Homo sapiens: one gene and its partner. The protein of the gene in region 1 interacts with the protein of each later gene in a pairwise test. Each region holds a gene or a part of one and is shown on either strand. Other genes may lie near its edges.

Region 1 (3,651 bases):
CAGCCTGTCCTGCCATAATGTGCCCCACTTGGGGAGAGTAGGGACAGTTTGGGCAACACCTCCATTGGCTGATCAGCTTCAGCATTTCAGATGTGGTGGTTTTCCCCTTGAAAGCTCCTCCTTATTTCTAAAGTAGCTTTATGTGGATAGGGCACCAGGTATTACAGTCTACCTCTTACTGGCCTGCAAAATCAGATATCCTCAGAGGAACAAGGTACATGCCAGCCTTAGAGGAATTTAATTTTCCAGTGACTATACAAGAAGACACATCATCATGTCTTGGAAATCTTGCATAGAACTTCTGCTTACTGACTGCAGCTGTAGGAGACAAGAAAACACAGGAGGGCATTTTGCTGCCACTGCCAAACCAGTCCTGGGCTCCCTTGTGTCCAGCTATGTACTCGCCTGATGGAGAGCTTAAACTGCCTTTGAGCGCCCTTTGATTTGACACCACAGAGACTGTGAAATTCTCTGGGAGCATGGCTGGTTGGAGATGAGAAGTTTTTTCATGGAAGCACCTGGTCCCCTCACCTCTAACACAGGCCACAGAGGACGATGGGACTGAGTTTTAGATTACTGATGTGCATAGAAACAGAAGCCACCTGCCACAACCTGGATCACTGCCACTAGCATCAGAGCAAGCGAGGAGTAGATATGCCTTTGTCTTGTCCTGGCAGTTCCTCAGGATGGATAAGTGTGTGCACCTGCCCAGCCCTGACCCTGCTGTTTGTAACTCAGTAAATTACATGTTGTAATAGCAACGAAAGGATTTTCCACTCTTTTTTTTTTTTTTTTTTTTTTTTTTTTGAGAGACGGAGTTTCACTCTGTCCCCCAGGCTGGAGTGCAGTAGTGTGATCTCGGCTCACTGCAACTTCTTGTCTCCGGGGTTCAAGCGATTCTCCTGCCTCAGCTTCCCTAGTAGTGGGGACTACAGGCATGCACCACCATGTCCAGCTAATTTTTGTATTTTTTAGTAGAGACGGGGTTTCACTATATGTTGGCCAGGCTGGTCTCAAACTTCTGACCTCAAGTGATCCACTCACCTTGGCCTCCCAAAGTGCTGGGATTACAGACGTGAGCCACCATGCCCGGCCAGGATTTTCCACTCTTGAAGGGAGTATTTTGTTGTCACTTCAACTCGCTGTTTTTTTTCCAGACAACCTCAAATATGACCACACTACAGCCTGTACACAACAAGACAGTTTATCTTGTCCATGGGGTAAGTGTATGCCTGATCTTTTTAATTCAGTACAATCTCTGAAGGTGTTAACACTAATGTTTTACAAGAATGTAGAGGCGACTCGGTGCTATGAAGCGTGTTAAACAACTCACACAATTGCTACAAAACACCAGGGAGGGGCTTTTTGTGTTTTTAATTTTTAAAACATTTTTCCTTTTCTTGTGAGCCATAGTAGGCCTAGAGAGATTACTGGGTTTTTATAATTAAACATTTATTTCGGTGAAATCATTTTGTTTCCTTTTATTTGTTCCGTCATGCTTAAAACATACTTCCCTACTTTATACTTAACAACCAAAACCATTATTCTAAAAGCAAGTGACTCTTGGCTGAAGTCCAGCTTCTGCACAGTATGGATGCAAGGTGCAGGCAAGTTTGGCCTTCACAGCAACTTGATTCTGTCTCACAAGCAGTCATATGATGCTTTCGTGCCATGGATGATTGAGCGAGTAGTCTCTTATGCAGTTAGTTTAGTGTGTGTGTGTGTTTTCTTTTTTTCAGGCTGGAGTGCAGTGTAGAGACAGAGTCTTGCTGTGTTGCCCAAGCTGGTCTCAAACTCCTGGGCTCAAGCAATCCTCCTGCCTCAGCCTCCCAACATGCTGGGATTACCGGCATGAGCCACTGTGCCTGGCCTGTGTTTTTATTATTAAAGACATCTTGTCTATCTTGTTACCCTGGCATCAGGTCAGAAGCCGCCCATTCAGGAAACTTTTTTTTTTTTTTTTTAGACAGGCTCTCACTCTGTTGCCCAGGCTGGAGTGCAGTGGCATAATCACGGCTCACCAGTCTCAACCTCCTGGACTCAAGCAATCCTCCCACAACAGCTTCCCGAGAGTAGCTATAACCACAGGTGTACACCACCATGCCCAGCTAATTTTTGTAGAGACGGGGTTTCACCATGTTGCGCAAGCTGGTCTCAAACTCCTGGCCTCAAGTGATCCTCCCACCTTGCCCTCCCGAAGTGCTGGGATTACAGACATGAGCCACCACACCGGGTGAAACTTCAGACAATAGAAGTAATACTTTTCAGTGTAAATGAGTAACTATTTCTTTAGCCTATAGGCTTTTATTCCATGAAGATGAGGCTTATACATTAAAAAAAGAAAGAACTAAAACTTCTATCAGTTTAAAAAACACATAGCCAGCTTAGGCAAGATACTGAGACCCCACACTACAAAATAAAATTAAAAATTAGCCAGACATGATGGTGCATTCCTGTAATCCCAGCCACATGGAGGCTGAGACAGGAGGATTCCTTGAGCCCAGGAGGTTGAGGTTGCAGTAAGCCATGATCACACCACTGCACTCCAGCCTGGGTGATAGAGTGAGACCCTGTCTCAAAAAAAAACCCACATAGAGTGACTTTCTAAAATGAGATATGTTAAAAATTGTATTAAACTGGGCCGGGGGTGGTGGCTCATGCCTGTAATCTCAGCACTTTGGGAGGCCGAGGCAGATGGACCACCTGAGGTCAGGAGTTTGAAACCAAGCTGGCCAACATGGTGAAACCCCATCTCTACTAAAAATACAAAAAATTATCTGGGCATGGTGGCACATGCCTGTAATCCCAGCTACTTGGGAGGCTGAGGCAGGAGAATCGCTTGAACCTGGGAGGCAGAGGTTGCGGTGAGCTGAGATCGTGCCATTGCACTCCAGCCTGGGCAACAAGAACGAAACTCTGTCTCAAAAAAATTGTATTAAACTGAAGACAGTGAATTTAAATTTTTTTATTAAAAAAACTGTTAAATTCTCACTGTTTCAATTTGTCAATACACTTAATAAATTCCTCTGAATAGAATAAAAAGACGCAGAATTACCCAAAAAGAAAAGTAGGCACAAATTTCTGCATAGATTAGGAAAACCAAAGGGCCAATAAATAAGAAAACTGCTCAGCCTCATTATTCATCAGTAAAGTGGAAATCAAAACCACTGTGACATGATGTTACACCTTCAGAATGGAAAAAATGGAAAGATCTGACAATATAACATGTGGGTGAGGATGCAGGGCAGCTAATAGGGATGTAAATTCACATAGCCACTTTGGAAAAGTTTGGCATTATCCAATGAAATTGAAAACATGATCACATTCTGAGAGAATGGAGGTAAAAAAAATGAAAAAAAAAATCGAAAACATGAATTCCTATGTTCACCACTTCCCACTCTTGCATATGTATACAGCAAGGACATTTGTGTGTAAGCACCAGGAAACATAGGAGAATCTTCACAGAAGCATGCTTCATGATTTAAAAAAACATTTGAAAAGAATTCAGGACCGGGCGCCGTGGCTCCTGCCTGTAATCCCAGCACTTTGGGAGGCCGAGGTGGGTAGATCACGAAGTCAGGAGTTTGAGGCCATCCTGGCCAACATGGTGAAACCCTGTCTCTACTGAAGATACAAAAAAATTAGCCAGCC
Region 2 (3,651 bases), about 120 Mb from region 1:
TCTCCTGCCTCACCCTCACAAGTAGCTGGGACTATAGGCGCCTGCCACCACGCCTGGCTAATCTTTTATATTTTTAGTAGAGATGGGGTTTTGTCATGCTGGTCAGGCTGGTCTTGAACTCCTGACCTCAAGTGATCTGCTGGCCTCAGCCTCCCAAAGTGTTGGGATTACAGGCAGGAGCCACCACACCCAGCCCCACTGTGGGTTTTAACCATAGGGATCAACTCCTCCAAGAAAGTTTCCTCTGTTTTTTCCTCAATTCTGAGTCAGGTACCTTCCTCAGAGTCCCTACCATCATACCAGTATATTATGGCATTTACTCACTGGCTCCTGAGGAGTCTACAAAACTCCTAGAAGCAGAGATTGCATCATGAGTTCCCAGCTCAAAATACAGTGTTGGCGGCGGGGCGCTGTGGCTCACGCTTGTAATCTCAGCACTTTGGGAGGCTGAGGCAGGTGGATCACGAGGTCAGGAGATCGAGACCATCCTGGCTAACACGGTGAAACACCGTCTCTACTAAAAATACAAAAAATTAGCCGGGCGTCGTGGCGGGCACCTGTAGTCCCAGCTACTTGGGAGGCTGAGGCAGGAGAATGGCGTGAACCCGGGAGGGGGAGCTTGCAGTGAGCCGAGATCACATCACTGCACTCCAGTCTGGGCAACAGAGAGAGACTCCGTCTCAAAAAAGAAAAAAAAAATACAGTGTTGGCTTTCAGTAGATACTATGAGTATGCCCTTAGTAAATGCTTGTTTAATAAGGTAAGGGGAAAGATGAGAGCTCTCAGAGACCTTTGGCAGGGAGCACTGTTCCCAACAGTGGATTTCTGCATGGGTGCCCTTTGCTAGTGTGGCCACTGACTTTCCTTCCTCTGTTACTGGGCCAGCTCCTTCAAGGCCTCTCCCTAGATGGGGCCATCTCAGGCCCCACCAACAGTTCGGGAGTCCGAGGGAACACTCGCCCCCACCCACTCTATCTCCAGGTCAATCAACCCACAAGCACAGTTATGGAAGGGGACCATTCTAGGTGTGACCTAGACCTGGGGTTTTAAAATCCTGCACTTTGAGCCGCCACATGGTTCCAGGGCAATGATGAGATGTTTCTGGGATTTTGCCAACAAAGAAGTATCCAACTACGTGGGGAATCTTGAGGTGATTTACATATTAGCTCTTTGAGTTTGCTGTTGAATAGATCTTTGTGCTGCTACAGTTTGAAGCCTGAAATGGACACTCCTAGGCTTGCAGTTGAGAGTGTGAATTGCTACCATGTTTGGGGAGGTAATCTGGCCATGATTTCTCCGAGGCGACGCAGTCAAGTGATTCTCCTTCCATCTCCTTTCCATCGCCCTGTTATTTCTCATATAGGAATTACTACCTGTGTTCTCGGGGCTCCATGGCGATTTAAGTTTTTCTTTTAAAGATCATTGATCAAGTTTGAAAAACTCTGCATTTCACTATTTATTAAAGGTCTTATCCGTGTGAGGTGCCAGGGAGTGGGGAATAACAGCAAAAAAGACGAAATAATGCTTAGAGACTAAAATTTGTGATGACAGTTGGGAAGAAGAACTGGCACACCTGAACCAATGACAAGTAAGTTGAAAACTGGATTGTATTAGGTTGCTGCAAAAGTAATTGTGGTTTTTGCAATTAAAATACTAACTTTGAATACAGCAGTTTCTCAGCAGGAGGCAGGTGAGCCAGAACCTTCCTTACCAGGGAGGAGGTGGCTGTGAACTGAACCTTGAAGTTGAACCTGAGGAGGGTATGAAGGGAGTCAGCGAAGCAGGAGCCAAGTTCATGGCTCCAAGATGCAAGCTGAGAGCTGAGGAGACAGGGCTCTCTCTTCCAAGAACCTTAGCCAGAGCCTGTTGCCTCCTTATGCTGGGTTTGGCCAGCCACCCAGACCAAACAGAGGTGGTGCATAAAAAATGGGAGGTTTTCAACCTCTCACCTCTCACCACTGCCTCCAGCCAGCGTGCAAATTAGCCTCCAGATCCCTCCTCCCAGGGTTGGAGAAGTTGATGGGGATGTGTCAGCTACAGTCGAGCATAGCTGGTGAGCTTACGGCTAGTTAGCTCCTTTTGCCATTTGGCAAAGCCCTCTGTTTTGCTGCAGTTTTCATCCTGTGTCTCTCACACTGGTTTTTTGTTTGTTTTTTAGAGACAAGATCTTGCTGTTTCTCTCAGGATGGAGTGCAGTGATGTGATCACGGCTCAGCTTACTGCAATCTTGACCTCCTAAGCTCAAGTGATCCCCAGTCCTCTCTCCTCAGACTCCCAAGTAGCTGGGACCACAAGTGCATACCAACACACCTGGCTAATTGTTTTTAATTTTTGTAGAAATAAGGTCTCGCTATGTTGCTCAGGCTGGTCTTGAACCCCTGGCCTCAAGTGATCCTCCCACTTTGGCTTCCCAGAGTGTTGGGATTCTAGGTGTGAGCCACCGCATCCAGCCTCACACTGTTGCTTCCTGCTGGACACTGACTTCCACCATCCCTAGACTTCCTTAATGGTGATTTCAATAGCGCTTTTTACTTGTACAGGACTTTACACTTTAAAAAGTGGAATAAAATTATTATTATTATTATTTACACCTCACAACAACTCTGTGAGAAGATTCCCTTTGCCATTTGGCAGATGAGGAAACCAAGTGCGCCTTTGAAAGTTGAAGGAGGGCTGGGCACGGTGGCTCATGCCTGTATTCCTAGCACTTTGGGAGACTGAGGTGGGCTTATCATCTGAGGTCAGGAGTTCAAGACCAGCCTGGCCACCATGATGAAGCCCTGTCTCTACTAAAACTACAAAAATGAGCCAGGTGTGGTGGTGCACGCCTGTAGTTCCAGCTACTTGGGAGGCTGAGACAGGAGAATCTCTTGAACCCGGGAGGTGGAGGTTGCAGTGAGTGGAGATCACACTGCTGCACTCCAGGCTGGGTGACAGAGCAAGACTTTGTCTCAAAAAATAAATAAAAAACAAAAAAAAAGAAAGGTGAAAGAGTTTATGCAAGATTTTTAAGAGGAATGCTGAGATATGAACACCAGCTGTTCTGAGTCCCAATGTTGGGCTGTAACTACCAAGTCATTGGGGTTCACCAATTAAATGGATTTAGGCTCATCGAATTGTTGGCAAGTGTTTAATATGCAGGAAAAAGAGATTTTTAAAATTATAAGAATGCAGTTACTTTTGTATTTATTGTAATTCAAGCATGATGAGGGCATTCGAATCTTCCTCAGTTTTTCTGTGCTCACTTCACCCCCCATCTCCCTTTTCCCTAAGTGCTTGTGATGCATATATGTTAAGCTCAATAAACAATAAACTAGGGCCTGGCGTGATGGCTCATGCCTGTAATCCCAGCAATTTAGGAGGCCAAGGTGAGCCGATCACCAGAGGTCAGGAGTTCCAGACAAGCCTGGTCAACATGGCGAAATCCCATCTCTATTAAAAATACAAAAAATTAGCTGGGCATGGTGGTGCACGCCTGTAGTCCCAGCTACTCAGGAGGCTGAGGCGGGAGAATTGCTTGAACCCGGGAGGCGGAGGTTATAGTGAGCTGAGATCGCACCACTGCACTGCAACCTAGGCTAAAAAGCGAGACTCTGTCTCAAAAACAAACAAACAAACAAACAAACACAATAAAGTAGGATGTAGCTAGGA

Evidence for each region.
Region 2: the proteins of ZNF250 (region 1) and LZTS1 interact in binary tests that used the Homo sapiens proteins (3 or more experiments, as listed by UniProt).

The regions. Positions count from the first base shown.
Region 1 is NC_000008.11:144,884,409-144,888,059, reverse strand, and holds part of ZNF250 (zinc finger protein 250), read left to right. Parts: intron 1-1,157; coding exon 1,158-1,220; intron 1,221-3,651. UniProt on the Homo sapiens protein: May be involved in transcriptional regulation.
Region 2 is NC_000008.11:20,297,382-20,301,032, reverse strand, and holds part of LZTS1 (leucine zipper putative tumor suppressor 1), read left to right. Parts: intron 1-3,651. UniProt on the Homo sapiens protein: Involved in the regulation of cell growth. May stabilize the active CDC2-cyclin B1 complex and thereby contribute to the regulation of the cell cycle and the prevention of uncontrolled cell proliferation. May act as a tumor suppressor.